2 linked regions of the Homo sapiens genome follow. The protein of the gene in region 1 interacts with the protein of each later gene in a biochemical or structural test. Each region holds a gene or a part of one and is shown in the gene's direction. Other genes may lie near its edges. The genes, in order: CLDN1 and TJP2.

Region 1 (12,127 bases):
GCAACCGCAGCTTCTAGTATCCAGACTCCAGCGCCGCCCCGGGCGCGGACCCCAACCCCGACCCAGAGCTTCTCCAGCGGCGGCGCAGCGAGCAGGGCTCCCCGCCTTAACTTCCTCCGCGGGGCCCAGCCACCTTCGGGAGTCCGGGTTGCCCACCTGCAAACTCTCCGCCTTCTGCACCTGCCACCCCTGAGCCAGCGCGGGCGCCCGAGCGAGTCATGGCCAACGCGGGGCTGCAGCTGTTGGGCTTCATTCTCGCCTTCCTGGGATGGATCGGCGCCATCGTCAGCACTGCCCTGCCCCAGTGGAGGATTTACTCCTATGCCGGCGACAACATCGTGACCGCCCAGGCCATGTACGAGGGGCTGTGGATGTCCTGCGTGTCGCAGAGCACCGGGCAGATCCAGTGCAAAGTCTTTGACTCCTTGCTGAATCTGAGCAGTGAGTGCACCCCCACCTCACAGCGGCCGTCCAGAGGCCCCAGTCCCCCTGCAGCTCCCTTATGGGCTCATTCTGTTGTGTGATTCCATGGTTATCAGTCTTCAGTTGATCAAGTCTTCTGATCATGTGCTCTGTCATAAGGAAATGAAGAGAATCCTGGTTTGAGGAAAGCGACGCCCAGGCATAAGCTCTAGTTTTGCCTCTAACTCCCTGGGTGACACTTCTGCCACTCTAGGTGTGGCTTCATCCTAAATTCCTATGCTGGTGGTTCGAGTTGAGGGAGTGAAGGCCAAACTTGAACTTGAGCTCTTAGACCTCTCCTAGGCATTCCGAGATTTGGGGTAAATTGAGGATTGGTAGAGTTCAGACAAGAAAATGGGATGACTGAAAAAGTTTGAAGCCTGGTAACTTCTCAAGTGTGCACGCTTAAATAAATAATCCTCAAGTATTAGATATAACTTTTTAACCTTTAATATGATTTTTTCATAGTAAAAGTTACATTCCTACTGGAAATGTCCTATCTAAGTGTCTTCTGCTTATGCTTGAGGTTGATTCTTTTAATTTATAAGATCCAGTTAGTGCAGGGAGGCCCCTTGCAAGACTCTTTGGAGAAGCTGCTTGAGATTCCCCCGAAGTTTTAATTTTCAGACCCAAGGTCTTCTGTAGAGGCTGACGGTGTAGTGCTATCTTGGAAAGAGAAGGTTGGTGGCAGGTGGGGAAAGGCTGACAAGAAAGGTTCTAAATAACCTGCGCAACATAATACAAAGAAAAAAGTAAAGGCACTGAAGGGAAATGCAGCAAAATAGTCATAGCTGATGAAATCAGAGGTCAGCTGGGAGTGGAAGGCAGTGAGAGAGAAAGAAGAGGTGGGTCTTCCTTAGGTTTCCATCTTCCACAAAGAAATTTCTGTGTAATGGATGTTCAGTGACCCCCTGTAAAACTGGAAAGGATTGTATAGAGAGACATATTTCTAAGGATGGTGGGAAGAAGGATAATAGGATAATTGTTTTACTTTGTTTTTTAAATTAAAGGTTTCGAGTTCCTTGTCCGAAAAGTCATTAAATTCCCATTTACTTAGATAATAATGATTCACGGCTGGAGTATCTTCCTTGAGAAATCACATTAATTGTCTTATATCATGTGTCTGTTATGCCCTTTAACTCACTTGAAGAAAAGATCCCTTAGTCTTTGCCTAGATGAACGTGACTGCCCACTGGCCCCCATTGCATGCTAAGGGTGAAAAGTGTTGGCATTGTTCAAGTTTACTTAACTTGTTTTGTCTACCTCCTATCAAGGGACAACTTTTAATAGTGTATATCAAAAGCCATATAGTTTAGAGTTATTAAACCTGTTCCAAATCTGTTTGAACACCTTGAATACCTGTGGCATTTGCTCAGTCAATGTGCATGGTTGTTTTGAGTGTTATTATTTCAGCTTTTGAAGGTTCTCATATCAGGACTTCTTTACACCAAAACCAATCCATAAGTTTAGTAATTATGTGTTGCTCATTGCCCTCAGGGGTTATATTTGTACTTATAAAATGAAAAATTTGGTAATAATTATTGAATTTCTCCATGGAAAGATAAATATATTTAAGGAAACGGTGTCAGGCATTTTAGGTACCACGTTAAGGAATTGGCAGGTGGAGGTTTCTAAGGACAATTCCAGAGAGGTCTCACTGTCAGTTTTATTCCTCTGATCAAAATAGTTCCTTTTCAACATCTTTAAATAGGTTTTCTTTTAACTTCCTGAAATGACCAAATGAAATCAGATTGATCTATGTTGTAAATACTCAAATGGATCATCCTTACACATGATAATGTGTTAAAATGTTTTACTTTCATTTTTTGGTTAATGTAGTTATTACAGTTTTTAAAACTAGGGTGAAAGGACTAAATACCTACCCCCCCACACACACTTTAGAGATGTCTTCCTATTTTTTTAAAACTCCAGATCAGAATCCACTTTTATTTTACTTAAAGCCATAGTTTATCCAAGGTGTGGCTTAGGCCTTTCTCTCAAAACCCATTCTCAGAAGAGGGACCCTTGACTCACAGGTGTTCTCCTCTCACCTGCCGTGACTCACGGGATGCTTTTGGATAGAACCCAGGAAACCTTACTTCATTTCTCTGCCTGAGCAGTGGTGTTTACGCCCACCAGCTGTAGAGATCTGGGATGGTGATTCATTGGCTGGTTTTGGTACAGTTTTGTTACATGTAGAGATGAAAAGGGTTATGTGTGTATATTTAAGCAGTATCACTCAGAAAAAAGCTGCATTTCATTAAGTGTGTTTAGGTGAAAAGCTTAGCTGTGGGTTTCCCGAAATTGTACCTTGCCGTCTTTCCCAGTAGAGCACACTTGTCTTCCCGGCCAGATGCAGGGCTTTAGCACGGGAAGTATTAAAATCTGTTGTTTCCCTGCTTTATGTAGGGTAGGTCATAAAAAGCATATGACCTTCATAAAGTATCTGAAGGAATACAGTGTGCTAATAGTGTATACAGTAAATACAAAATGAGATAGAGCAAGGCTTCTTCTTTTAGGTAGTTCTTGCCAAGCGGTTTATGAAAATGTAACTGAGGCACTTCCTGGGGAAACAAATGTCACATTGTGTATTGTAGTTTTATAATGGCTGATACAATTTCCATTTCATCCAAAGTATGTGATTTTATTGACCCTGGGGATTCTTGTAGCTGAAAGTTGGAATATACAAAAAGTGCCAGATACAGTTGTAGTAGACTTTTCTTGATTCACCTGTACCTCTCGCCTTGTTTTCATCTAATTCTCAAACTTTTAGGAAGCTCGCGCCAATTTTATGTGCTTGCTTAAATGCTTCTTCTTACTTGACTTTAATAGCTAGAGCTGTCCAAAGATTGAGTTGCTGTAGGAGGCTGCATGGTGGGAGGTGTGCAAGCAGAGAATAAATAAGCATTTTGAAGGAATGTTGTAGGGAAGATCCAAGCACCAGACAAATGGGAGGTTAGGCTAGACTCTCTCTCAATCTCACCGAACCCTGAGATTCTGTAATTTGTTTATAAGCTCCTCTAGCCTGTTTAACTTGCTTTGCATGAATCCACATGTGTGTAGGTGTGCTTAATGAGTATTGGTGGCTGTGAGCTTCCCCAGCACTCTCACCATGATGTCAGGCTCAATCAGAGAGACAAAATCACTGACGTGGACAGTCTTTGAAGCCTAAGTGGAGAGGAGGGCACCTATTTATGCTTCTCCAGATGCGTTGTGCCTGCTGAACCGAGGGTACTCGAAGGGCCATTGGTGTTCAGATATACTTCATAAATTAGTTCTGACTCTTAGAATAATGGAAGTTGAAGCAAAAATCCAGGCTTGAGATCAGAAATTCTCTGTTCTTACTGTGGTTTGGCACTAAGTAGCCAAGTGTATAATGGTGAGCCACTTGATCTCCCTGGTTTCAAGTAGTTACCCCACTTATAAAATAGGGCAGAGTGGGAGGAATGGGGAGATGAATCTATGATTCGTTTATCCATTCAACAGATGCAAGCTAGGCCCTATTCTTGCTGCTAAGGATGGTGCAGCTAAGATGAGTTCTAAGATTCCTTCCAGTGCCAGAATTCTTTGTTATTACTTCAGTGATTGAAGGGGAAGAGGCAAGTCACATAGCTTAGGTTTCCTTAATTGGAGTGATTAAGGAAATATAATGGAGGTAATATAGAAGCATCAACTTAATTCTGAGAAAATTTCTTGAAGAAACACACAAACAAGAAAGGTAGCAAAACTTCTGAGGACATCCTGAAAAGTGGTACATCCTGCCTCATCCAGGATCATTTTCACTCCTGATTTTGCTTATGTTCTGAGTTCACATCTGGTGACCATCACCTCATGCACCAATAAGAGGGAAATGCTAATGATTAGGACTTTTATGAAACTTTGAACTTCCGTAAAAGTAAAAGATTTAATATGGAGAAAAGCCAGGGGAGTACACTTCTGTGACTGTCTGTGTTGAGCTCATTTAATTGCAGGGGAGAAGGAAGCACAATATTTTTGTTCTAGTCACCCAATCATCAGTTCATTTATTCACTTAATACTTATTAAGCAACTACAGATGCAAAGGGAGAATTGGAATCTGCAGTCAACATTTGAACAACACAGGTTTGAACAGCAAGTGTCCACTTATAGGTGGATTTCTTTCAACCAATACCGATCAAGAATACAGTATCTGAGAGTCCAAAGCCTGCATGTAGGGAGGGTTGACTTTCTGTATACAAGGCTTCCACAGGATCAACTGTAGGACTTGAGCATGTGCAGATTTAGTTACCTGTGGGTGGTCCTGGAACCAATCACCCTTATATACCAAGAGATGACTATATTTTGTTTATGATATATAGAACCTAAGGTAATATGGCTAGAAAATAGCATAAACAATGTCTGGTATTGATAGTAGATTCTACTACTTGTGTAGCAAGACTTTCAAGCTTTAGAAAAATTACATATATGTCTGTCTTTCTACACATTTGTTGATTAACCTAAGTGTAGTAGATCAGTAACTTCCAACTCACTTCTTGTCTTATAAGTAGAGATCTTTGTAAGTATTTACTTTTAATTCTACTTTCAGGTGGAAAATGATGAGAACTCCTTAGGGGGTCTTTAATCTCAAGATTGTCAGTCTAGCTAAATATAATTAAAAGACTGCCTTCTGTGTTTACTGCTGAATAATGATGAGAAAAAATAGTGTAATTTTTTTAATGTTTGCTAACCAGGTTCTCCATAGACAACTTTAGTCAGTGGTCATAATATTGTAGATTTAGCTGCAAATTTAAGAGGTGAGAAAAGGAATATGTTTGTTCCTAGGTTTGTTCTAATCAGACCAATTCAAAGTTAATATTGCAAGGCTATACAACATCTATCTCATCCAAATTGTTGTTTTATAGCTTTCAAACATCCTTTTTAACTTCTCTGCTCTGCCACTCATCATTCCATTAGGGCAAAAAGAAACAAAACTTAAGCTTTGAAGCTCATTAGATACATACTTTAAAAAATAGATCAAAATAAGCAAAAAGTACAATTTGTATTATCTGCATGAGTTTCTAGTTATCAGTGACCTAAGCTAAGTCTGGCTTTTAGTAGCAAGATTTTAGCATACCAGGCTCTCAAGGGAGGTATTTCTCAGTATTATTTCAAAAATTAAGCTAAACACAAGAGAATAAGTATTTTTACCTATCATATTGGTACAGATTTTTAAAGGATAAAGACATGTTCTAATTTAAATTTATTGAAATTTGATAAATCCATGTGACTTTTCAAGTACTGTGCTTGGTGCTTTAGATGGAAATAGGAATAAATATCTGACTCAAATCATCCAGGAGTTCATGATTACATACTTTACAAATCTGATTTAAAACACTTCTATGATGTGAAGGTATTCATCTGTTTCCGGCTTAAAACTGTGCAATTTAGATTTGATCTGCACATAAAACACTTGTAACTTGTAACACAATAGTTGCTTACTTTGACTGGTAACCTATCATTACCTACGCCTTGCTTGTGAGTTTTCGTGCTGTTTTAATTCTCAGCTTTTTGTGCGTGACTACATGTGTATATTATTTTTGCATTTTCCTCACATATAACTATACTTAAGAATTTATCCAAATATCTCCAATGAAGCAAAGCAAGATTTTGGGTTTGATGCAAATCTAATATTGGAACATACAAATAAATTGTATAAGTCAATAGTTGCCAGGATGTAAGTGAAAATATTACTTTGCAAAACGACATTTTAAAAAACAAAGCAGGATCTCATTTCTATGGTTTATGCAATTTTTAAATATTGTGTTTTCCATTTTCTCCATTACTTTTTGTGTATTATGCAAATAATATATTATTCTATAGAGAAATGAAACCTGATAGGTTTCTTAGCAATCATAGAACAGAATATCAGTCCCCAGCCCCTTGGAAAGAACACTTTGTAGATGAAGTGGCAAGATAGATTTGACACGAATCAAATGTGTTTTCTTTGAGAACTTAATGGGCAAAAACTTAGAGATTAAAAATGTGAATATTAGGTCATTCCAGGTGGGTGCAGTAAGGGCCCTGGAGTAGTTTATGCACATGTGTTCCTTGCCTGGGAGATCAGGGGTTTTACACAGTCCGACTCATGAGATTGATGCCCAGTTAGACTTCTCTTGAAGACTACTCTGCGATCTAAGTGCTCAGACCTGCTGGGCAAGTGACCTTCTGTTTTTACTTGAAGAAAAGATCAGTGTGATTATTCTATAAACTGGTCCAGTTTGGGGCCCCACAACTTGAACAAAGAGAAAAACTTGGAGCAAGATCAGAGAAAACATCTAAAATGATTAATAAAAGGTTGAAAAAGAGTATTTATGAAAAAATAAAATGGAGGAGGCTGTGAAATGTAAGATGCTATAGATGCTTGAAGTGCTGTCATAGAAATATTTATTGATTGTGTGATCTCTATGCTGACAGTAAAAATCATGTCGCCCCTTTCTCAAGATAATCATATGACTTCTGATTATACTTAGAATAGAATCCATCTTCTTACCCTAATTTGCGAAGTTCTGCATGACATATGCCTTCTGCCCACCTTGCTAAACTTCGTTTTACTTTGCACATCCTATCATCCTGCGTTAGGATGACCAGCTCTCCCAATTTGTTCAGGATTGAGAGCCTTCTAAGGATGTAGGACTTTAAACTTTAAAGCTAGGACTGTTCCAGGCAAACTGAGATATGTGGTTTCCCTATCCTCCAGACATGGATCATCTTTGTTACTTTCAGCATCTCCTCTTCAGGCATATCTCTGCCTGAAATATTTTCCTGCCAAGTGTAATCTTAGGACCACATCTGAAATCTGTGTTATGTATGGGTTTAGTTATTTTATTTGTTATTTCCCAATAATGATAGCCTTTGCAAAAACCATCCATCAGAAAGAGGACATACCTTAACCATGGAGCCCTTGGTACTTTCCTCTTCATACCACAGTATGGCTTGTGATTCCAAGGAAAAAGTTGTGTAATAACCTTACAAGCAGCTTCAGTTCCTTCCTGGTAAACCTGTGGTCCGTGGAACATGTGTTTTGATCCAGCAGTTCCTCTGCCACCTGGAATCTTGAGATAAGTGTGTGGGTCAGTGTGCATGTGTGCCCATACATGCTTATGAGGAGGTCAGTGTGTGAGGGGAATCAGGAAGTCTCTTTTTTATTTTTAAATGAAATCAAGTAAAACTTAACCTTGGCTTCAAAAATATCTCTCAAATACTGTAAACAATACCTTTGATACTTTTTAGAAAGAGATTATGGCCAGGCGTAGTGGCTCACGTCTGTAATCCCAGAACTTTGGGAGGCCGAGGTGGGCAGACCACCTGAACTCAGGAATTTGAGACCATCCTGGGCAACATGGTGAAACCCATCTCTACTAAATACCAAAAAAAAAAAAAAATTTAGCCAGGCATGGTGGTTCGTGCCTGCAGTCCCAGCTACTCAGGAGGCTGTGGGATGAGAATCGCTTGAGCCCCAGAGGCAGAGGTTGCAGTGAGCCCATATCGCACCACTGCACTCCAGCCTGGGCAACAGAGCAAGACTCTATCTCAAAAAAAGAAAAATAAAGAGATTACTATAATTTTATCATAGATTGCCTGGTTATAGCAAAGACAGAAAATCAGTAAATCAAGATTTAATGAAGTTTTAGAAATATTTAGCTTCAATTATGATTGGTGACCTAAGTTCTCAATCTTGACAATATTAACACTAAGCCTAGGCCTGATTAGATATTGAGATACAAAACCTTTCCAACATCTCAGCCACTTTTAAAGACCATCAAGGAGTCAATTGTTCCAATCCACTGGATAAAGATATAATTTACATTTTACTTATATAATTGAAATATTATTCCAAACAATACTAAGTTTCTTGCTCAAGATAGCACAGTTTGTTAAAGCTAAAAAATACTTATATATGCAAAAAACACTTGTCACATATTATCACTGTCAATGATATAGTGATCTTTAATTAAAGGAGGACATAAATCTAGAATTTAAACAAAATCTTCTAACCAGCATAGTTTCAGTTCATATTTAAAAATCTGTGCCTTTATGCCACAATGATGGCATCAAGTTTTTACTCTTTAAGAAACATAGTGATAATGTCTCAAACTTGACCCTGTTTATTTGATCATGAGTTAGTACACCAAAAATAATGATGGGAAATTAGAAAAAATGGAATCCTGAGAAACACTACATTGAATTATTGTGTGTGCTATTTTACAACATGGCAGCTTAAATAGTTTTAAAAAACTAGTGATGTCTTTGAATATGAATCTACTACTATGTCCCAAGGTAACATCTCAAAGGTTATTTTGTTTAGTTTTAAGAAAATGACTTCTATATTCTTCCCCACTCCTCCTATTCACATCACTGGAGATACAAATACTGCTTATCCAGCCATGATAATCTATAAAACATTTATTTTTTATCTTCCAATTCATCCAGTTTTTCTGAAGCTTATTGATTGGGGTGTAAAGCTGGTGACTAATATCAAAGATATACTGTAAACCATTTTGATTACAAATAGTTAACATCCAGGATAGTATATATGATTGTTACTTAAAATTAAAATTATCTTAGCAAGGATGAAAATCCCTTAGTAAAAAATAAATATGTATTAGTTCAGCTAACCCTATTCAATTAGATCATTAATTAATTTTCCAGTTGATTTTGAATTTAATGTTGGAAACATAAAATATTGGAGTGGAGGGATCTCTTTTTCATCATCCAGCCTGGCATTTGTTTTTCTGGAGAAGATACTGTATATTGGGTTACCAGCGGAAACATCAGTATGACTGGGGTCTCTAGATTCCTAGTCCAGTTTTCTCTCTTCCATACAACAGTGACATATACTTGGTCTTCTTCCATTTTTCTCTTGTTGGTCCAAGCATATTTTTACATGTTTTAAAATGTTTTCTGCCAGGCACATTGCAAGCAACCCGTGCCTTGATGGTGGTTGGCATCCTCCTGGGAGTGATAGCAATCTTTGTGGCCACCGTTGGCATGAAGTGTATGAAGTGCTTGGAAGACGATGAGGTGCAGAAGATGAGGATGGCTGTCATTGGGGGTGCGATATTTCTTCTTGCAGGTAATAGAGGCTGTGCCCCCCTTTCACCTTACTAACCTGTTCCTGGTATGATTTGAAATCTATTACGTTGGATTCATTATACTTGATTTCAGTCTCTAAGGCAAACTGCAAACATAGACCTGAAGTCCAGTTGACTTTCATGTTCTCAAACACAAACTAAATGAAAATGTGAGAGCTCTGCTCACATCTGACAGGTCTATTGGTTGAAGTTTCAAGTGGCAACTGGTTTGTTAGAACCAGTCTCTTCCAGTGAAGAAAGTTGTTCACTATTTAGCAAACGCTAAGGAGGAAGTTCATGTAATTCAGATAATTCCTATGGTGTCTCCACAGATACTATGTGGAAAAGATGGGGAGTAGTGAGAGAAAACACAAGAATATGTGAACCCTTCAGGTCTGTGAGGGATGGAAGGATTGGGATTATTGGAGAAAAATAAGGATAGCATTCCAGCTGGGCAGATCTAATTCGAGAATAAACAGGATGTGCCTGTAGATCAATGAAAAGAAAGGCCAACTGGAGTAGAGGTGGCCTGTTGGAATGGTCAGTTTAAAGCAGTTAGGAAAAAAAAAATACAGAAATACCTTTAAATTTTTTTGATAAAATAATATTATATTTTCCATTTAAAATAAATACGTGTTTTTTAGGCCAGGTGTGGTGGTTCACGCCTGTAATCCCAGCACTTTTGGAGGCTGAGGAGGGCGGATCACCTGAGGTCGTGAGTTCAAGACCAGCCTGGCCAACATGGTGAAACCCCATCTCTACTGAAAACACAAAAATTAGCTGGGTGTGGTGGTGCACGCCTGTAATCCCATATACTCCAGAGGCTGAGGCATGAGAATCACCTCAACTCGGGAGCCGAGATCGCACCACTGCACTCCAGCCTAAGCAACAGAAGACTGTCTAAAAAAAAAAGAAAAAAGAAAAGAAAAGAAATATCTGTTTTTTAATTCAAGTGTTGATTGATAAGTTACATTATGTGTCATTTGAGAAAATCAAAGTCAGAAAACATGGACAGCATTATTTCAAAGCTTTATAATAATGCCTATTTAAAAAATTATAGTGTATGTATACTTACGTGTGTATATGTACATACATATGCAATCTCTCTGTGTGTATATATATATCTTTATATCTATACACTGTGTTATATATGTTGATAATCTCCATATAAATTATACAGCTATAATAATAGACTACTATATGTTCTCTATATTAGGTATTAGATGCATATATTATATATGTAGTATATTATAGTATATTATTTTAAAAAAATAACAGATATAATTAATGATACAAATCTACTAATAGAAAAAAACTAGAATAGACTTTATTTTCTTATTTTCTTTTTGACAGAAGACTTGTAGGGGCTTTTGCTTCAGTATAATATGTCAGTTTAACCAGTAATTGAGGAAGAGTATCTGTGGCTTTGCTAAAGATGTGGTTAGTTTAAAATGACCAGTCTCTCAGTTTACCCAAATACAAATTGACTCCTCTCTGAAAAGGCATGGATAGTGTCTTATTCCCAATAATTTACTCTTATATCAAAGGCTGCGAATAGTAATCTTTGTGGCCATCGTGGCATGAAGTGTATGAAGTGCTTGGAAGACGATGAGGATGAAATGCATTGCATTCTTCCTTCGCTTGCCTTCTTGTAACTCCCACATGTGACTGCATCACTCCTATTCCAGTTTCAGGGACTTCTCTTAGGAGTAAGCATCACAAGTTCAAGACCATTCGCATGGTCTATTTGAGAAGCCAAAAGCAATAGTGTTTTCTGTCATGTCTAGAGGCAATTACATTGGACCATGTTTTTGGCTGGGGAGAGACAGTAGCATAGAAACATCTAATCTATCTATATTGATGAATACTTAGAATTACTACAAAAAAGTTATTTAACTTTTTTGATAAAAAAATGAAGTATTTTATACATCTTATAAATGATTAAGTGAATGATTTTGACTAAATGATTTCTCTGCTATCATTGAATATAAAATGCCATGGGAAATTGAGATTGGGTTGCATAAATTGATCTGATGTGGCACCCTCAACAAATCTCAGGCCAACCTATACCTATATCAGGTATTCCCTTGGCCAATGGGGCAGTAGTAATGCAGGTATTCTGGTCCATTCTGAGACATGTCCTGATCTCACTCTATCTAGCTGCTTGCATTCCTTTTGACTCTGCAGAAATGTAAATTTTGAGTTTGATCAAGAACATAGAAGAGTTTTCATCTTCCCCTTTTGCAAGTAATTCTACCTGTACTAATAATGACAATAGTTTTATCAAATGTAGTTTAGTATCCTAATGTATAACAGCATATTTAAAAGAGATTTTGTACAACATACACCTGCCTAATTGTTTCCAAAAAAGAATTATTTGTGCCAAGATATCATAAAAAAGTATAAATTTTGTCTAATGCCAACCTAGTATTTTTTTATATTTTAATAGATACTTGGAATAAATCATATCTGGACTTCTAATCTCCCTAATACCAAAATAAAAATGTCAACACTATTGATGAGATTTAATTCTTGCAAAATATGTTTTGGTTTAACAGGTTGTGTATTTAGGCTCA
Region 2 (12,127 bases), on another chromosome or scaffold:
CTGTATTCCTCAAATGCGTCCTGTCTTCTCAGTCTTGGAACCCAGAACTCATCCATGTATCTGTGAGAACTGATAGTGTTTCTGCCCTTGCCAAGATTTTATTAGTCTGATTAATGTGAAAATATTGAGACTCTAAGTAAGCACTTACAGGAAAGATTTTTCAAAAAGATTTTTCTGATTTTTGCTTTTTTCACTGTGTTCCCCCTGCCTGCCATCTTTCTTAAGGCAGTGTCCTGAAATTGAACAAAGGTGAGTGGTTGGCATCAGACTGGGTGATTGGAATTTCGTCCCAGCCTCTGATTAGTTCTGTGACCCTGGTTCACCCTGAGACTCAGGTTTCTGTATCTGTTTAATGGGGATGAGAATACCTGCCTCGCAGGGACTGTGGGAAGATTAGACCAGGTAACACTTACAAGGCACCTAGCAGAGTTCCCTGGCACAGAATAGGAAGGTGAGTGTCCATTCTTTTTTCTTATTGGAAGATAACAAATAGCTGCTACTCAATGTTATTTACATCTAAAATTGTCCAAGAAAGGGAATTCCTGGTTAATCAAATATTGATACTTTTAAAATTACTATGTGTTTGTATAATCTGTTAAGGAATTAAAAAATAACTCAACTTGACATTTGTGTATGTGTGTGTGTGTGTGTAGCATTCTTTGTTGACTTCGGAATAAATTTCAAGAACATCAAGTATCTCCTTACAATAAAAATATAGAGTACTAGGGAACTGTTTTTTTTGTTTTTTTTTGTTTTTGACAGTCTCGCTCTGTCACCCAGGCTGGAGTGCAGTGGTGCTATCTCAGATCACCGCAACCTCCGCCTCCTGGGTTCAAGCAATTCTTAGTCCTCAGCCTCCCCAGTAGCTGGGATTACAGGTGAACTCTTAATTTTTGTCTTTTTAGTAGAGACAGGGTTTCATCATGTTGCCCAGGCTGGTCTCGAGCTCCTGAGCTCAAGCAGTCCACATGCCTTGGCCTCCCAAAGTGCTGGGATTACAGGCGTGAGCCACTGCGCCCGGCTGGGAACTGTCTTCATTGGAATTTCTTCCTGCTTCTGCAAACTTGCAGTTCATATATATGAGGTTTTTTTTTTCTTGTTAATGTTAGTAAAAAATCCATATGTAGTAAACTAAGGGGTCTGGTAGGGGCTTCTAGGCTCCAAGGAGAGGGGAGAAAAAAGTTCTAGAATTCTCAAGGAAGCAAGCAGCAGCAAAGTACAAAAGCAGGTGGCCCCCTTCCTTCTTGGCCCCGTTGCAGTATTTCAGATTTCATTTCTGGAGCAGATGAAGGGCAAACCTTGATCATGAGCTTTGCAAAAGCTTTTCAGTGAAATTCTAGACCCTCCTTGGCCCTGGTCAGGATCTAGAAGACTATGTACCTGCACGAACCTCATGTTGCCTTATGATCCTAGGAAATACCACTCACCAAATGTTACTGATGAAAACCCATCTGAGTGCCAGCTCATACCAGTTTACTCTTTGCATATATGCTGATGAAGGAAAAAGGCATTTTTTCTAACTATTGTGAGGCCATAGGATGATAGCTAGAAATGTGGAGCTTTTGCTCATTAAGGTTCAATGATAAAATATTTTCGTATGTTCAGGGGCTGGGAGATTTTCTAAATTTCCGTGAAGAAAAGTAGTGAATTCACCTAGAGGCTTGGCAGTCAGACCTCTCTGTAAGTTGTTGTTAGATGGGGAGAGTCGCTTTGGTGGATAAAAAGTCATGGTATCAGCATTTATACTTAAGGTGTTTTGTTTCTTGTTATCACCCTGGCAACACGGAAGGAACTCTGGGAACTGGCTTCTTTTGCTGTCATCCCATATGGAGGTCAGGCAATAGGTGGTCCTCATTTCTTGGGTGCGAATAAATTTTCTGTTGACTACAAAAGAAGCTTTCCGTTCTAGAAAGGGGTGAAAAAGATTGAGTTTGCCTACGAGGGCGGAGAAGCTGCTGCACAATACTAAGCTGTGGCTGATACAGGATCCTCTTCAGGCTCACAGCAGACACGGCTAGACCCTGTAGACTACTAAATAGCTAATCAAAGAGGATATTTATTGGAAAGGACTGTTCAATGTAACCTTCAAGTAGAAAAGTGCTGCCCTAGCCTTTTTTCACTTTAATTTGTTTCAATGCTCCTTTTCATGGCCAAATTGAATATATAAAGTGAGCCTTATACACATGCTAATCACTTTATTCTGTTGTGGGGTTTTTAAGTGTGGCTCTTTGTTTTGCAAAGGTGACAGCCTAATGTGTGGAATGAAGACGTGAGCCAGATATGTATATTCCTTATCAATAATGGAGATATATGTGCTTTTGCTCATTCCTGCTTGGCTGAACTACCTCTTTGCTTGTTATTTATCTGATAGAGTTGTCATTTCTCTTTCAGAAACTTTTATGGGATGGAAAAGAGAAAAAAGACTTCTAAGTTTGGTTATTAACCATGTAGATTTTTAAAATATAACTACCATGTGTGCTTTAATTTTGACCATTATAGTTTTTGGCTATCGAAGACTGTGATCGAGACTGATCTAAGGTTAATCTCTTGTGGCCAGAGAGATGGACTGAAGGACTCCCAAGGTCCTCCCACAGCCTTGTGGCCCTGTCTTATTTAAGTAAACAAATACAAGCATGTATAGTACATGTGAAAATATACATATGGCTATATGTAGATACAGATGTAGATAAACAAATGGCACAAGAAAGGATACCAAAATGGGATGATTCCTAATTGGGGGACAGAGAGGTACAAATGACAGTACCTTAAATACTAAATACTGTTTCAAAGGAAAAATTAACTCAATTGCTTTAGCACATCACTTTATTTTAAAAGCACCAAATTAGTTTTAGTCTAATGCCGACTTTCACTTAATCATAAATTTTGGCCTTAATTAAGGCCCACCCAACTAAGGATAAGTTTCTTCTTTAATAAAGCATTACTCTTGTGATTAAAAGGATTCTGTAATTGTCAATGACTGAAGAAAATATTTCATAGGAATTTTATATCTTTATTTCTACAAAATATTATTAACATATCAGGTACTTTAATATGGTTTTTGCATTTTACTTATTTATAATTCTGTTTTAAAATAGGCTGAAAGATACAGAACTATGGGCCAGGCGTGGTGGCTCACGCATGTAATCCCAGCACTTTGGGAGGCCTAGGTGGGCGGATCACCTGAGGTCAAGAGTTCGAGACCAGCCTGGCCAACATGGTGAAACCTTGTCTCTACTGAAAATACAAAAAAAATTAGCTGGGTGTGGTGGCACATGCCTGTAGTCGCAGCTACTCAGGGAGGCTGAGGCAAAAGAATTGCTTGAACCCAGGAGGCGGAGGTTGCAGTGAGCCAAGATCGCGCCATTGCACTCCAGCCTGGGCGACAGAGGGAGACTACATCTCAAAAAAAAAAACCACATAGCACTATGATTTCAAAATGTCTTGTTCTTTGTGCTACATTTCAATTTTACTTGCTTTGTAACTGTAAGGCTGATGCTCTTTAATTTGATACATACCTTTCAATTTTATAAACACATGTTAAACACTTTTAGGTGATAGAAGCTATAGGAGAAGGGTAGAATTGGTCAGAGTCTTTATTTGCACACTTTTATTTGAACCAGTTTAAAATTAGTGTAAATGCTGGGCCAGCATGCTCAGTTGTCACAGACCCCAACACTCCCCATGCTTCATACTTGTGTATTACCTTCTTGGCCACCTCTGTGAGAGACTCACAGAAGGGAGATGGATAGAAACAACCACAAGAAATTCTATTGTGATCTGGTGACAGATCCTTGCTTCAATGGCTTAACCTCTAAGGTGCGGTTGGCAGTATGGGGAGGCAGGAAGGTATAGTGTGCAGGCCCATAGCAAGGTGCTGGGCGCGAGGACTTGAATAGTGACATTAAGGACTCATTTGCATCTTGGCTTTGCTCTGGACAGGCCCTGATGAAAACAAACAAAAGGGTCAGTGGCATCTTACTATAAACTTCTCTGTTTTTTCTTTCTTTCTTTCTTTCTTTCTTTCTTTTTTTTTTTTTTCTTTTTCTGTTTTTCCTTCCTAATAGGTGAACACACAGGATTTCAGAGGATTAGTGCGGGAGGATGCCGTTCTCTACCTGTTAGAAATCCCTAAAGGTGAAATGGTGACCATTTTAGCTCAGAGCCGAGCCGATGGTGAGCAAATTTGGTCATTTAGTTTAGTTGGGGTGGGGGTGGGGAGTGGGAAGGATGAGAGAGGTGTCTTGGTACCAGAATAGGCAAATCTGGGTATTAAAAAATTGAGATGGATCTCAACACCTAGTCCTTGGGCCCTAGGTGTGTGAAGAAAATGTGAGTGCCGTTTAACTTTCCATAAAAATGTTTTCTATGCATGCACTGAAATAATTTTACTAGTTGTGTCAATTTGGAATAAAACTGCCTTCCTGAACAGTGATGCAGCCTTATGTTCTGCCTGGAGTTATTAGTGAGTTTACATACGACATGTGCAAAGGCCATGGCTGCTGGCTGGTGCGCCTGTTACCCCTGTCCAGTCTGACAAGTTGTTTCACCTTTCCAGGCCTTGTTCCCATCTGTTAAGTGGGTGTTGAGAGTGTCCTCCTTGTCTGCTTCAGAGCTTGATTGGCAACTGTGTTAATGTTCTCCAGAGAAACAGAATGATAGGAGATATTGGAATCAATAGGAAAGAAAGAGATTTATTATAAAGAATTGGCTCACATAATTATGGAGACTGGCAAGTGCCAAGATCTGCAGTGAAAATGGGCAAGATAGAGACTCAGGAGAGCCAGTGATTTAGTTCTAGTCTCAGTCTGAAGGCCTGAGAACCAGGAGAGCCAATGGTGTAGTTCCAGTACCAAGTCAGGGAAAAGAGCTGATGTCGCCTTTTGAAGGCCATCAGGCAGGAAGAGTAGTTTCCTCCTAATTTTTTATTTATTTATTTATTTATTTATTTATTTATTATTATTTTTTTGAGACGGAGTCTGGCTTTGTCGCTGAGGCTGGAGTGCAGTGGAGCAATCTTGGCTCACTGCAAGCTCTGCCTCCCAGGTTCACCCCATTCTCCTGCCTCAGCCTCCCGAGTAGCTGGGACTACAGGCGCCCACCACCACGCCCGGCTAATTTTTTGTATTTTTAGTAGAGACGGGGTTTCACTGTGTTAGCCAGGATGGTCTCGATCTCCTGACCTTGTGATCCACCCACCTTGGCCTCCCAAAGTGCTGGGATTATAGGCATGAGCCACCACGCCCAGCCTAGTTTCCTCTTAATTGAGAAGGGGTCTGATTGTCATTCTCTTCAGGCCCTCAACTGATTGGATGAGGCCCACTCGCATTGGGGAGGGCGATCTTCTTTGCTCAGTCTACCCATTTATACGTGACTGTCATTCAAAAACACCCTCAGAGAAAGGCATAGAATAAAGTCTGACCAAATACCTGGTTATTTCATGGCCCAGTCAAGTTGAAATAAAATTAACCATTGCAGCAAGCCGTGAAGCTGGTTATTTGTCCTTGTTCCTGTTGGAGCTGTGACTCCCATAGGACTTGTGCACTGAATGGAAGGAAGGTAAAGGGGAGATCAGAGATAGGAGAAGCTGTGTTGAGTGTCTAGTACTGTAACTTGTACTAAGCTGAATGCAACAAACGATGCTTTTGTCTTTCAGTGTATAGAGACATCCTGGCTTGTGGCAGAGGGGATTCGTTTTTTATAAGAAGCCACTTTGAATGTGAGAAGGAAACTCCACAGAGCCTGGCCTTCACCAGAGGGGAGGTCTTCCGAGTGGTAGACACACTGTATGACGGCAAGCTGGGCAACTGGCTGGCTGTGAGGATTGGGAACGAGTTGGAGAAAGGCTTAATCCCCAACAAGAGCAGGTAACAGAGATCGCATTCTCACATACCCCTTTTAATCCTTCCCCCTGCAGAAAACTAGAGACCGCCCCCCTTCCCCCGTAAAAGGAAACCCCACATGATGAGTTCATTACTTGTCACCATCTATTTCTTGTTTATGGAGAGTGGCCTGAACTGTAAATAGCCACCAGCCAGTTTATTGTGAGTAAATTTAGCATCATGTGGTTGGTTGCTGAATGTGGCTGTTTGAACAACTTCCTAAGGAGCATCCACTGCCTTGTACCGTATACAAGAGATATACTGAATGGCCGTAGCACACCAGCACACCTCTTAGAGACAAGGTACCCTTGTCCGGTGCCCAGTCTCCATCCTTGGAGAGGTTTATGCACCCCAGTGAACACTTGGTGTTTGGCTGACAGTGCAGGAACCTAGAAAAGAGGCCTGTATTTGAGCAGGAGTTCCAGGTGTGTGTACTGTGTACCTGCATATCAGAATGGGCCAAATTTCACATGTTTATTGCTGAGCCACTTCTGGGAGATTTCACAGAGACCCAGCCTTTTTCTGCTCCCATTTGGAAGTGAAGGTCCCCACATTTCCCACCCTCTGAAACTTCTTCATTGTCAAGCGGAATCTTCTCTGAGCTCAGAAGTAAAATTGACTGGATTTGATTAATGAAATGCATGTTAGCTGCGTTTTCTGGCTTTAGAGATTTACTTCCCGTGGTTTCTTCTCAGAGCTGAACAAATGGCCAGTGTTCAAAATGCCCAGAGAGACAACGCTGGGGACCGGGCAGATTTCTGGAGAATGCGTGGCCAGAGGTCTGGGGTGAAGAAGAACCTGAGGAAAAGTCGGGAAGACCTCACAGCTGTTGTGTCTGTCAGCACCAAGTTCCCAGCTTATGAGAGGGTTTTGCTGCGAGAAGGTGAGGAAGTCACATGGGGCCTGGAAATGAACTGACTGGGCTCTGAGCCTGTTCACCTTTATTTTCAGACTGTATGGTCAAGTTCTAACTTATGTATGTCAGTTATGCCAAAGGCAGTTTATAGAGTTGAAATCAAATTCTAACAAGGAGCATGATTTATAAAAAGCTGTTTCAGTTCCTAAATTGAGGCTTATTTCTGCAACTTAAAAAATGTTTTAATACCACTGTTCAAGAGTTTCGGTATATTGGCTGGGCACTGTACCTTATGCCTATAATCGTAGCACTTTGGGAGGCCAAGGTGGGAGGATCACTTGAGCTCAGAAGTTCAAGACTAGCCTGGGCAATATAGTAAGACCTCATCTCTGCAAAAAATAAAAAAAGTTTCCATATATTATCAATGGGAAAGTTTGTGTTTAAAAATGGTGAGGAGCTAGGCAGTGTAGTCCCAGCTACTCAGGAGGCTTGAGCCTAGGAGTTTGAGTTTAGTCTGGGCAACATAGTGAGATCTTGTCTCTTAAAAAAAAATCTAGGTTAGCATGTGGTTGAATGAAAAGAAAAAAATTGTTTTAAATGGTGAGGATAGTGAAGGCATATTCTTCAGAACAGAGCCAAGCTGAATTGGGGAGAAACCACAGTTTCTTTCGTTTAGTTATGTTATCAAAAGCCCATACAATACTTTTACTGCTTATCATAACAGCTAGGCAAGTGTGTATGCTTTAATGGCCTTTCTTGTCATTTCAGCTGGTTTCAAGAGACCTGTGGTCTTATTCGGCCCCATAGCTGATATAGCAATGGAAAAATTGGCTAATGAGTTACCTGACTGGTTTCAAACTGCTAGTAAGTCTGTCAGTGTTTTTTTTTCCCCCAAATTTTTATTTTGAAAAATTTCTAACAGAGGAGTTGGAAGAATCATGAACACCCACGTACCCTTCACCTGGAATCACCAGTTGCTGACATTTTGTCACGCATTTTCTCTCACCCACTGCCTGCACCATAGACACACATACACACACACATACACATACTCTTTGAAAAATTTCTGCAGAATCATTTATAACACTTTATCCCTGAATACTTGTGTGAATCTCCTAAGAACAAGGACTTTCTCCCACATAACTGCAATACCATTATCACAGCCAAGAAAGGTAACATTGATGTGGTGTGATTTTGTATATAGTCCATTTTCCACGTTTTCTTAATTGTCCTAGTTATGTGCTTCATAGCTTTTTTTTAAATTCAGAATACAACCAAGGACCATTCATGACATTTGATTTTTATGTCTTTTTGTGATTTTTATGTCTTTCCAGTCCCCTCTTTTTTCTAAATAACTTTGTTACACTGATATTTTGAAGAATCCAAGCTAGTTGTCTCCTAGAATGCTTCCTGTTGGACTGGCCTAACCGTTTCTTCATGATTAGATTTCCACTAAGCAGGTTATGTGGGTCCTTCCCACTGAATCTTGTTAGGAGACACTTAATGTCAGGTGTGCCATCATTGCTTGATGCTAGGTGGGAGTATTTGGTTGTCACTGTTTTCTAAACAATTATTTAGCTTCCTGTTTTTGCTTTTGCAGAAACGGAACCAAAAGATGCAGGATCTGAGAAATCCACTGGAGTGGTCCGGTTAAATACCGTGAGGCAAATTATTGAACAGGTGAGAAAATTCATCCACAGACCGTGTTTTCAGAAAGAATTAGATTATGGTTTGCTGCAGTCACTTTTAGGATAGTATCTGTACTTTTAATCATTAAATGTTAATAATAAAAAATTGGCCGGGCACAGTGGCTTACACCTGTAATCCCAACACTTTGAGAGGCTGAGGCGGGTGGATCACCTGAGGTCAGGAGTTCGAGACCAGCCTGGCCAACATGGTGAAACCCTGTCTCTACTAAAAATATAAAAAATTAGCCGGGCACAGTGGCAGGTACCTGTAGTCCCAGCCACTCAGGAGGCTGAGGCAGGAGAATCGCTTGAACTCAGGAGGCGGAGTTTGCAGTGAGCGGAGATTGCACCATTGCACTCCAGCCTGGGCGACGAGTGAAACTCCATCTCAAAAAAATATATATATAATGTAAATGCAAACCGTTTCACTGTGTGGAAACCAGTCACTGTTGGCAGTGAGCGGAGATTGCACCATTGCACTCCAGCCTGGGCGACAAGAGTGAAACTCCATCTCAAAAAAATATATATATAATGTAAATGCAAACCATTTCACTGTGTGGAAACCAGTCACTGTTACTGTTCTCTGGCAGTAACATACTGTTTTTTTTTCCAGAGTTCCCAGCATTATACCAAATAATGTGTTAATTCATTTTATCAGAAGTTCTAACACATTGGTAATATTGAAGTGGGCATTAGGTAGAAGGAAATGTGTTCTGCTTCTTGATTTAAATTTACAAGATAGGTGGCTCATGCCTGTAATCCCAGCACTTTGGGAGGCAGAGGCGGGCGGATCACCTGAAGTCAGGAGTTTGGGACCAGCCTGGCCAACATGGTGAAACCCTGTCTCTACTAAAAATACAAAAATTAGCTGGCCATGGTGGTGGCGGGCACCTGTAATCCCAGCTACTCAGGAGGCTGAGACAGGATAATTGCTTGAACCCGGGAGGCGGAGGTCGCAGTGAGCCAAGTTTGTGCCACTGCACTCCAGCCTGGGCAACAGAGCAAGAATCTATCCCAAATAAGTAAACAAACAAACAAACAAGATATATCTCATACAGCCTTTACTTATTAAAACAAAGTATTTGATGCTATATTACTTTATATATCCATTTCTCTAACTTTTCCCCTTTTGTAAACAGGATAAGCATGCACTACTGGATGTGACTCCGAAAGCTGTGGACCTGTTGAATTACACCCAGTGGTTCCCAATTGTGATTTTTTTCAACCCAGACTCCAGACAAGGTGTCAAAACCATGAGACAAAGGTTAAATCCAACGTCCAACAAAAGTTCTCGAAAGTTATTTGATCAAGCCAACAAGCTTAAAAAAACGTGTGCACACCTTTTTACAGGTAAGTGAAATGTAAATGTAGTCCCTTTGCTAAAAAATGAGAAATAAAGAATTGAAGAGTAGAAGAAATAATTAATTAATCTGAATGGAGAATTTGAAATTGTGTTCATGACTCCTTGAAAAATAGTTAATCCTATAAAATGGGATATTAGGCCAATGGCATTTATATATTGAACTTTGTAATTTTGTCTATTTGAAAATGACCATAAAGATCCATGATGTGGTAATAATTAGCTATTTTGATGAAGTTCATATTTTCCTGTGAGACTATAAGGCTAGTGATTGAGCCAGGCCAAACACCTATGTCTCTCTAGAGATTGTGTCATTGTTCTCTACTCACCATCAATACATGCATTAACTTACAAAGCGAAAGGAACTTGGTTTCATTATTTAAAAATATTCCTGTCCAGCATGGTGGATAACACTTGTAATCCTCCCACTTTGGGAGGCCAAGGCAGGAGGATCACTTGAGCCCAGGGGTTGGAGACCAGCCTGAGCAACATGGTGAGATCCTGTCTCTACTAAAAGGCCTAGCATGGTGGTGCATGCCTATGGCTGAGGTTGGAGGATCGCTTGAGCCAGGAATTCAAAGCTGCAGTGAGCTGTGATGGCACTGCTGCACTCCTGCCTGGTGACTGAGTGAGACCCTGTCTCTTCAAAGAAAAAAAAAAAAATCTAGAAACTTGGACACTCTGAATATTGGATGATTTAAAGATTTATTATTTCTCTTTGTTAGGTGTGATAATAATATTGTGATTTTTTTAAAAACAAAGTTCTTTGAGGAATGCATACTAAATAAAATATTTATGGTTGACCTAATATAATGTTGAGAATTTGCCTAAATAGTCTGCAGTGAGGGGAGTAGATGGGATTATAGACAGGACAAGACTGGCCAAGACTTGGTAGTTGTTAGTTGTTGAACTGGTTGATATGTACATCGGAGTTCATTAAACTGCTATCTGTACTTTTGTACATATTTAAAGATTTACCTAATAGAATATATTTTTAAGTCCATGAAATGAAGAGCCATTGCTATTACTCATGAAAGTAAAATGGTCTAAGAACATGACATATTTTAGTAACAATATATGCACTGTCTATATAAATGATTAATTCTGTGCATATGAGATTATTAAGAGTTTTAAAGGGTTACATAAATTTTGTGGTCATGCAGGGCATTATTTTGTTGGGGCAACACGAGGAGACTGCAAGGATATGATATCCTTAGGATGAGGATAGCTCATTGAGTTCATTGCCCATCATCATCCACCCATGTCATTTTAGTGTATCTCTGATACTGGAGAGGAAGGGGTGAATGATTGTGTTCACATTAGATGCTTGTTTTAGTGTAACTTGGTTTTTCTTGTTAAAGAGAGGTGCACTACTTGCCACTGTGGCCAAATGGAGAGAGTTTAACCAAATGCAGAGGAGGAAGTGGTCCATCATAAACTAGATTTCTGTGAATGTAGTCTTACGTACTCATACTCTTGGTATATTTATGAATATCCTTTCTGTCCTTTTTACTACTAGTATTATAATTATTATGATTATTACTATTATAGCAACAGTAAAGAGTGGTACAGCCTTCCATGTGTGCTGTCTTATTAGGCCATAAGAAAGGCCAGCACTTTTGCATAATCACAATTCTGATGTATGACTGAGCCCAGACTAAACTATAGCGTCCCTAACTGTCCAATATTGTACATATGTTACAGCACAGACATATTCTAATCCCAAAAGGGGTCACGTAATGCAGCCCTTCCTTTTGACAGATTAAAAAACTGAAGCCAAAGTGATTATAAATGAAGTTAAAACTATCCCCACTTTATTTTCCCCCCTGCTTTTGTCTGAGTACACTAAATAGCGAGCGTCTTCCCTCAGAGAGTTAAATTTGGGATTCACGTGAGGATGTAGGAAATCGGGAAGGGAATTACAGTGCATTGTAGAGGAAGAACTAGGCTGAAGGCGGCTGGACGAGGAGAGCAGGGCAGAAGAAGGCAGCCAGTGACTGTGGGGCTCTCCCTTGATCTAACCTGAGTCCGCATCATTTGCTCTTGGGAGCACAGGCCACGGTAGCTGGCTGAGTGTGAGTAAGAATCTAGAGGGGTCCATGTGTGTAGAAGGGGTTAGCAACACCTCTGTTAGCTCCATAGATGGATTTCAAGATCCTTGAAGGCAGAGCCTGAACATTTCCCAGCGTTGTGTGCCTGAGGCCAGCATCAGGACTAGCACATGGGCAAGGCATAAATGTTTGTAACTTACATTAGAACTGCCCCTGGCACACCAAGCCATTTCTTGCCTAAACTCATCAGGAAGTTGAAAGTTTTAGAATAACTCAAGTCAGAGATTGGAATG

Evidence for each region.
Region 2: the proteins of CLDN1 (region 1) and TJP2 form a complex in vitro, tested with the Homo sapiens proteins (one study listed by BioGRID).

Annotation. Positions count from the first base shown.
Region 1 is NC_000003.12:190,310,298-190,322,424, reverse strand, and holds part of CLDN1 (claudin-1), read left to right. Parts: 5' UTR 1-218; coding exon 219-441; intron 442-7,365; exon of another isoform or gene 7,366-7,532; intron 7,533-9,388; coding exon 9,389-9,553; intron 9,554-12,127.
Region 2 is NC_000009.12:69,230,375-69,242,501, forward strand, and holds part of TJP2 (tight junction protein 2), read left to right. Parts: intron 1-4,064; coding exon 4,065-4,173; intron 4,174-5,653; coding exon 5,654-5,864; intron 5,865-6,574; coding exon 6,575-6,762; intron 6,763-7,503; coding exon 7,504-7,599; intron 7,600-8,335; coding exon 8,336-8,415; intron 8,416-9,562; coding exon 9,563-9,773; intron 9,774-12,127. UniProt on the Homo sapiens protein: Plays a role in tight junctions and adherens junctions. Acts as a positive regulator of RANKL-induced osteoclast differentiation, potentially via mediating downstream transcriptional activity.